Regions from separate parts of the Homo sapiens genome. Here region 1 is reported to be linked to region 2. The links are microRNA targets in miRTarBase. Many come from high-throughput screens and were not tested one by one. Region 2 holds a microRNA gene; the other region holds the end of a gene's coding sequence.
What was found. The annotated mature microRNA hsa-miR-3606-3p reads AAAAUUUCUUUCACUACUUAG and lies in region 2 at 2,197-2,217, shown strand. An mRNA with a match to its seed (bases 2 to 7 or 8) in the 3' UTR can be bound and repressed. Matches are read on the target gene's strand: a 7mer-m8 pairs with bases 2 to 8, a 7mer-A1 pairs with bases 2 to 7 and ends in A, and an 8mer does both.

Region 1: miRTarBase lists NGDN as a target of hsa-miR-3606-3p. The part of its 3' UTR that is shown has no 7-base or 8-base seed match.

The regions. Positions count from the first base shown.
Region 1 is chr14:23,477,573-23,481,646 of GRCh38, reverse strand. It overlaps NGDN (neuroguidin), which reads right to left. Exons shown (of 11, transcript NM_001042635.2): 11 at 3,474-3,640. The coding sequence ends at 3,621. Among named protein-coding and RNA genes, the nearest start is that of NGDN, 9.9 kb to the right of the region's middle.
Region 2 is chr2:188,993,475-188,997,474 of GRCh38, forward strand. MIR3606 (microRNA 3606) reads left to right here and starts at 2,156; the gene lies at 2,156-2,218. COL3A1 (collagen type III alpha 1 chain) reads left to right here. Exons shown (of 51, transcript NM_000090.4): 17 at 564-608; 18 at 760-858; 19 at 1,067-1,120; 20 at 1,250-1,357; 21 at 1,572-1,625; 22 at 2,218-2,316; 23 at 2,651-2,704; 24 at 2,924-3,022; 25 at 3,691-3,744; 26 at 3,862-3,915.

The DNA.
Region 1 (4,074 bases), not on the chromosome of region 2:
AACTGGGCTCTGAAAAAGGGCAGGTCTACACCACGCAGCTCTATGGTTTAGCTGTGTCCCATTCACCAAACCAAGGAATGAGGAGCGTTTGAACTCTCCATGGTGCTGAAAATTGACACACTAATAATCTCCCCTGCAAACAAAACACAGTTTTCCTAATAAGGTATCTATGAAGACTGTTGTGAATTCCCAATAGACATTTCCCCAAGCCTTCATAAAATCCTAACAAAACAATGATTTTAAGGCAAAGACAGACCTTGGTCAAACTCTCTTCCCTGTCCCCTAAGATGAAAAGAATGAGGCAGAGATGTAAATTACTTCTACAGAATAAAGCTATCACATGACAAAACCATCACATGATAAAACCAAACAGGTAAGGTGCTCATGTGTGCATTAATGACAGCTATTACTTAGTGAACACCAGAAATGATCTGTTGTCAGCAATACACTGAGGAAATCCGATATTCATATGGTCTGAATAATCAGATAACTGAATCTATTAGTAGGAATAAGGGAAAGAAAAAAAGTGACCAGAACAGCCATAACGAAATCCTAAAATTCTAGTTCTTAGTTCCCTTGTTCTACTACCCTAACAGTTGTTTTCAAACTATATTCTAAGGAATTCTAAAGGTTCCTTGGGGGCTCCTCAGGAATCTTGGGGAAAGGGGGTCATAAGAACATGGAACTTCAGGACCCCTCATTCCCACTTCAATCAAAGTAACCCCACTTATGCTTGTTTTACATATTGAGAATCCATGTAATACTCCATCAAACAATACACTCTAAACAGTGTTTGATGACTCTGGTACAAATATTCTCAGAAATAGTTCAACTTTTTACCAGAAACTTCTTTCAAATAATGCCTAAAAGCCAGGGAAAACAAAATGTCCTGGGATTAAAGACTTGATTGAATTAATATAAGGTCCACAAAGGCAGGGATTTTGTCTGCTGTGTTCACTGGTATACCACAAAGAGACCAGAATTGTGGAACTTAGGGTTTCTTTGAAGACGAGGCCTGTAACAGAAATGGGGCAGTAGGGCGGGGGAGCTAGATTATAAACCACCTACAAATAAAAAAAGATTTTTTAACCCTGAAGATTTTCATGAACCACAGGACACTTGAAGTCCTCCATCCTCAGTGTTCCCCAAGCACTGGTTCTCCAACTCAGGAAAAATTGTTTGCCCTAAGTGTCTAAGCTTCCTCACTAGTAAAATGGAGATTTCATAAATTTTATAAGGATTGCCAGGCGTGGTGGCTCATACCTGTAATCCCAGCACTTTGGGAGGCCAAGGTGGGTGGATCACGAGGTCAGGAGATTGAGACTATCCCGGCTAACACAGTGAAACCCTGTCTCCACTAAAATACAAAAAATTAGCCAGGTGTGGTGGCACGTGGCTATAGTCCCAGCTACTCAGGAGGCTGAGACAGGAGAATCGCTTGAACCCAGGAGGCAGAGGTTGCAGTCAGCGGAGATCACGCCACTGCACTCCAGCCTGGGCAACAGAGTGAGACTCCATCTCAAAAAAAAAAAAAAAAATTTATAAGGATTAAGTATAAAGCACTTAGCTCAGCCTATAGCACAGGAATTTTTTTTTTTTTTTTGATGGGTCTTACTATCATTCAGTCTGGAATGCAGTGGTAAGATCATAGCTCACAGCAAGCTCAAACTCCAGGGCTTAGGCAATACCCCTGCCTCAGTCTCCCAAGCAGCTGGGACTACAGACACACGCCACCACACCTGCCTAATTTTTTTATTTTTATTTTTTTTTAGAGACAGGGTCTTGTTGTGTTAAACATGCTGGTCTTGAACTCTCTGGCCTCAAACTATCCTCCTGACCCAGCCTCCCAAAGTGTCCAGATTATAGATATGAGCCACCACACCTGGCCAGAAGGTAGTACCTGTTTTGTTTTGTTTTGTTTTGTTTTGTTTTTTAAAGAGCACTTCCCTTCCCCTGGAAGTTCCCATAATCCACAAATCTTAATAAATTAGAAACAAATATAGTGGTCCTAACAAGCAAATGAAGTGGTTTTAACTAAAGTATTTTTGAACTGAATCACTCATCTAGTTAGTTCAGCCATAAAGGAAAAAAAGTCTCTAAATCTGTTCTTGTGGCTCTTTGTTTAGATTCCCTTGAGGAAACAGAAGTATGAGAGCCCAGGGCATGTGAGACTCTCTCAGATCTATCAGGGACTAAAGGTTAGCGGCCCCAGACATAAGCCCATCTTGGTGTCATGCACAAAAGCTCTAGGCTCTTTGACTTGAAGGGAATCTCACAGATGAAGTCTAATACATTCCTTAGCTGAGGAAAATTAAAGGCCAGGGATATTAAGTGATTTGCCCAAGATCACAGAATTAGCCTAAGACAGCCATAGGTCCAGTCTCCTAACTACTTTCTACCAAGCGGCAGCTGAGTGAAAGACCCCTGCCCCAATCAGGCTGAATAGTATAAATCCAAATTCAGAAATTCAGAATCAACGAGGTTTTAGTCATATAACCCAAATTAATTTGTCTATCGATATAACCCAGCAATACTAGACATTAAAATCAGATGTTCATGAGACCCAAAGCCTTTTTTAAAAACTCCAATGAATTAATTCTACAGACCCAACTTCTATCTTTTTTTAATCCCTTTTTTCACTTTCTGTATTATCCAAGGCCTGTGGGACATCTCACCAACAGAGGTTATTCTCTCATTAGAATACAAGATCTCAGATGTATAACGCCCACCAGTCTCCTGGCTTGAGTTTGGCTAATTATTTCTGTGGGATTTTCATTTGTTTGGCTGTTAAGCTAGGAATGTTCTGCTTGTCTGCTGGCATTTTTTTTTTTTTTTTTTTTTTGCCAGCTCTTTATAGAAGGGTTGGCCTTTATTGACTCTGGTAAAATGACCCTCAGTTGAAGGCGGGGGGGTGGGGGTCAGAGTCTGAAAAACACAAGACTATACTGACTCTTCACTCTAGCCTTCTTACTCACTCTACTATTTTCTACAAACTCCCTCAGTAACTGACCAAAGATCAGCCTTATGTTCATGCTATTTCAGAAAGAAATGAAAAACATTCAGAGAAGTGGAGATAAGAATAATCTTGCTGATGTGGAAAGGTTCTATCTTGCTTTTGATTACAGCCAAGCTCAAGTTTCTTGAACCACTTATGCCACCTGGTGGCCAGCCCAGATAACACTAATAAAACCTAAAATTCATGTGTTAATATCTCAATCTGTATTGTATTATAACAAATCATACAGGAAGTTGTGGCAACATGGGTTGAAAGAGTTGATTATACCAGCCTCGTCTCTCAATACTTTTTGTGACGTAACCAATTTTTAGTTTTTGGGAAAAATATATTATCAAAGAAAACAATACAAATGTTTTGCACTTCCAAAAAAAATTTCCCTTTTCACCAACCACTCACCAAAAATATCCCAAACCCAACGACTCCAGTCGTACAATACATGTGCAAAAAGGGGCTTTAATTCATAAGCAAAATCAATTTTATTAGTAAGGCTCTTTCCACATGTCCAAAGCAAACAATTAATGAATTCCAGGGAAAACCACCTATATACAATGAAATTAGAAGTATCTCAGGATGACAAAAAATATACAAATATGTACACCCATAATCACCGCCGCCTCCGAAAACCTGAAAGGAAGGGAAACCAAGAATGAGGCAAAGGACAGTTGGAAAAGCTAAAGGGACAGGAAAACAGGACATCTAGAGGGAAGGGCTCACAGGGGTGGGGTCTCCTAGGCAGTACCCTGAATATCTTCCCAGGACAAAAGACGAGAAGTAGGAATAAAATTGAAATGGGATAATGGTTCCTTCAAGTGACACTTTACCAGTTCTATTTAGGGAAGCCTGAACAGGAGCTGTGGGACCTTAGAGGCAGAATCCAGAGATTCATTTTGTGAATGATGCTGATTTCCAGCTCAGGAAAGCAAAAAATAAAAGCCCACCTAAGGAGATTATTGCCCAGTATGGAAGAGATACTACAGGGCTTGGTGAGACCCAGAATGGCAAATCCAAAGAGACTCAATTTGTACTCCCCACCTTGCACCTGATCACCTAAGTCCCAG
Region 2 (4,000 bases):
GAGAGGGAGTAAGCATAGTTTCATGCTTACTCCATGAAAGCATAGTTTCATGCTTACTCCATGAAAGCATGTGCTTCAATATGGCTATCAGTGAAAATTACTTTGAAAAAATTGTTGCTTAGTGCTCTAAAATGATCCTCCTGTGACACATACTGATTTGATTAGTAGTAAAAATGATAGTTTTTGACTGTTGCACTATTCCAGAATTCATGATTTTTTATGTTTATATAAAAGAATAGAGGATAGACTAGTTTTCTGATGCTTTCAAGAATGTGCCCCAAGCTAATCACCAATCATAAAAATTCAGAGAAGAACCAAATTCAAAATCTCTTCTATTTATGTATCATTTAATAATTTATACGAAGTACATATTATCTCTAATTTATTTAGATAATGATGATTCTTTTGACCACATTTCATATGTTGTGTTATAGTTGGAGGATTCACTTAATCTCTACAAAGCATAACACTCATCGATACATTTATTTTCACACAAACAACTTCAAATATATACGAACTATTTGCATTACTATTAATACATTATCTGTTTTTTGTATACTTAGGGCCCTCCTGGGATTAATGGTAGTCCTGGTGGTAAAGGCGAAATGGTAAGCTGTCCCCACTCCTCAGCCTTATCTCATCCACACATTACTGGCTTCTTTTGCATTTTGCATGACAATAGATTTGTGATATTTAAGTGAGATATTCATAAAAGAACATTCAAGTTCGGCTAATATAGTGTCTTTGGTTTGTTCTTAGGGTCCCGCTGGCATTCCTGGAGCTCCTGGACTGATGGGAGCCCGGGGTCCTCCAGGACCAGCCGGTGCTAATGGTGCTCCTGGACTGCGAGGTGGTGCAGTAAGTTGCCTTGTTTTTTCTCTGTTGACTGAAAGGTATAGTTTAATTCCATCAACAAAAAATTAATAGCAAAATTTTGCTCCTGTTCAGTTGAATTTATATTGACTTCACTCTTGTCTTATAACTTATAACTGAATTATGTGTTACTGGTGATGATTTGTTAGTCGAATCCTCCCTGTGTTTCAACCAAGACTTTGTTATACTTTAGGGTGAGCCTGGTAAGAATGGTGCCAAAGGAGAGCCCGGACCACGTGGTGAACGCGTAAGTTTTACTGCAACAGATCTGGTTATTTCTTGAAAAAATGCAACATAATTAGAAAGTAAACAGGTAAAAACTTTGAACTAAATTCAGTCATAATTTCTTTATTTTACCATCTTTTTTTTTTTTCAGGGTGAGGCTGGTATTCCAGGTGTTCCAGGAGCTAAAGGCGAAGATGGCAAGGATGGATCACCTGGAGAACCTGGTGCAAATGGGCTTCCAGGAGCTGCAGGAGAAAGGGTACGTTTTCCATGGGGCATCTAAAAGAAAAGCAGCATCACTGTCATCTAAATAAAACTACCTTCAGGGTGAGACAGCCAATTTTTCTTAAGTTGAGTGTTCAGTGAAAATATTGTTTAAAGCATTCTATGACATAAAAATATTTGCCACTCAAGAATTATGAAAAAGAATTGAAATCCTTTGGACTGAAATACTTGTCTTTCATTATTTTCAGGGTGCCCCTGGGTTCCGAGGACCTGCTGGACCAAATGGCATCCCAGGAGAAAAGGTAGATAACTTTAGTTTCTATGTTCCTAAATGCTAGCACCACAAATGGGCAGTTCTTGTATACAATTTCTCATTCATGAAAACCTAAATATCTGAAGAATATATATTAGAGTTAAGAAAAATTCCTAATATAATGCATCCTCTGTTCAACAACTTTCCTGGCTTTGTAACTAAAGCCACTTACTTACCCTCTATGAGAATCCTTTACTTATCTGTTAATTGGAAAGCATTTATCTGAGCATCGTTGCAAGAGTACAGTAAACTAAAATGCCTGAAAAGTCTTTGAAAACTCTAAGGTTACATCAAATATGATTTCATAGCATTAAGATATTTGATTTTAGCTGCACATAATTATATTTTTAAGCACAGTGAATACTGTTTTATTAAGCATGTGATGTTCACAAAGTTGCTTTAAAATTTTTTCAATATGGCAATCCAAGCTAAGATAACTGATTTTATGTATAAATGTTTCAGCAACACACGAACCCTTTTTAAAAGTTCAAATGACGTCCTCTCTTTGTAACCAAAATATTGTTGCTATCTAGGTTAGTGAAGGCTATTTTAATTTTTTTAAAATTTCTTTCACTACTTAGGGTCCTGCTGGAGAGCGTGGTGCTCCAGGCCCTGCAGGGCCCAGAGGAGCTGCTGGAGAACCTGGCAGAGATGGCGTCCCTGGAGGTCCAGGAATGAGGGTACAGAGAAACATTTGTTTGAATGACACTTTAATTTAGACAGAAGAAAGGCAAGACAAATGAAGACAGATCAAAAGCAACTTAAATCAATCAGATTACATATTTTGTAAGGCACCAAACAAAACAAAATTCTTTTAAGTAAACTTAAGCCGAGATAGTTCAAGGAGAAGAGAAGATAGAACACTTGCCTTAGATACTTTATAGACAGGAAAAAAGATGTGCAAATCTGAGGCTTCACATGTAAGTGAAAATATCAAAATCATACAAATAGTGTATGTAGTAATTTTTTATTATTTCATTTTAAATCACCTAACAACTGACTTCTTTACTTCAGGGCATGCCCGGAAGTCCAGGAGGACCAGGAAGTGATGGGAAACCAGGGCCTCCCGTATGTACATTTTTAAAATCTCATTTTAAAAGGCCAGTTAAAATGGAATGTATATGTTGGCCTATCCTTGAGTGTGTGTGTGTGTGTGTGTGTATATATATATATGTATATGTATATCTATATATATACACACACACACACACACACACATACTATATATATAGCATGCTTTAATCTTCTCTTTATCAAACCTTTATTAATGTAATTTTTTCTTATTAGGGAAGTCAAGGAGAAAGTGGTCGACCAGGTCCTCCTGGGCCATCTGGTCCCCGAGGTCAGCCTGGTGTCATGGGCTTCCCCGGTCCTAAAGGAAATGATGTGAGTTCCTTCATTAATTTCTTCAATAAATATTTGACTGGAAGGCTTTTATTTTCCATATGGAGTAAAGAAATGGTCAAAACTCAGTCTCCTCTTCAAAGCATGGAGGAGTATATGAAAATCAAATTGCATGTAGGAAGGGAGCTAAATATATAATTGGTTATGGTTGTATGTGTGTGTATGGAGCAGGCAGATAAAAAATATGAAACAGGCTGGGTGCGCTGGCTCACGCCTGTAATCCCAGCACTCTGGGAGGCCAAGGCAGGCAGATCACCTGAGGTCAGGAGTTCTAGGCCAGCCTTGCCAACATGGTGAAACCCTGTCTCCACTAAAAATACAAAAATTAGCCAGGCATGGTGGCATGTGCCTGTAATCCTAGCTACCCAGGAGGCTGAGGCAAGAGAATCACTAGAACCCGGGGGGCAGAGGCTACAGTGAGCCAAGATTGCGCCACTGCACTCCAGCCTGGGCGACAGAGCAAGACTCAGTCTCAAAAATATGTATGTGTGTGTGTGTATATATATATATGAGACATATATATATGAGACATATATATATGAGACATATATATATGAGACATATATATATGAGACATATATATATGAGACAATAATATGATTAGTTATTGCCCTTTGAGGATTAGTAAATACCGACCACTTCTTCTTTAGGGTGCTCCTGGTAAGAATGGAGAACGAGGTGGCCCTGGAGGACCTGGCCCTCAGGTACGTAGCTTTCCTCAATTTATTTCTAGCCTTCTAATAGATGCGTTCATCTCCAACCTTCTGACTTCTCTCTGTAATCTGTATTATTTCTACTTCCCTAACTGTTCTTGTTTTTAGGGTCCTCCTGGAAAGAATGGTGAAACTGGACCTCAGGGACCCCCAGGGCCTACTGTAAGTTCACTCATATAAAATTGGAGATGAAAATAGGGTGGAGGTGGGGCAGGAAGAATGCTTCAAAAATTACATAATCTCTGAC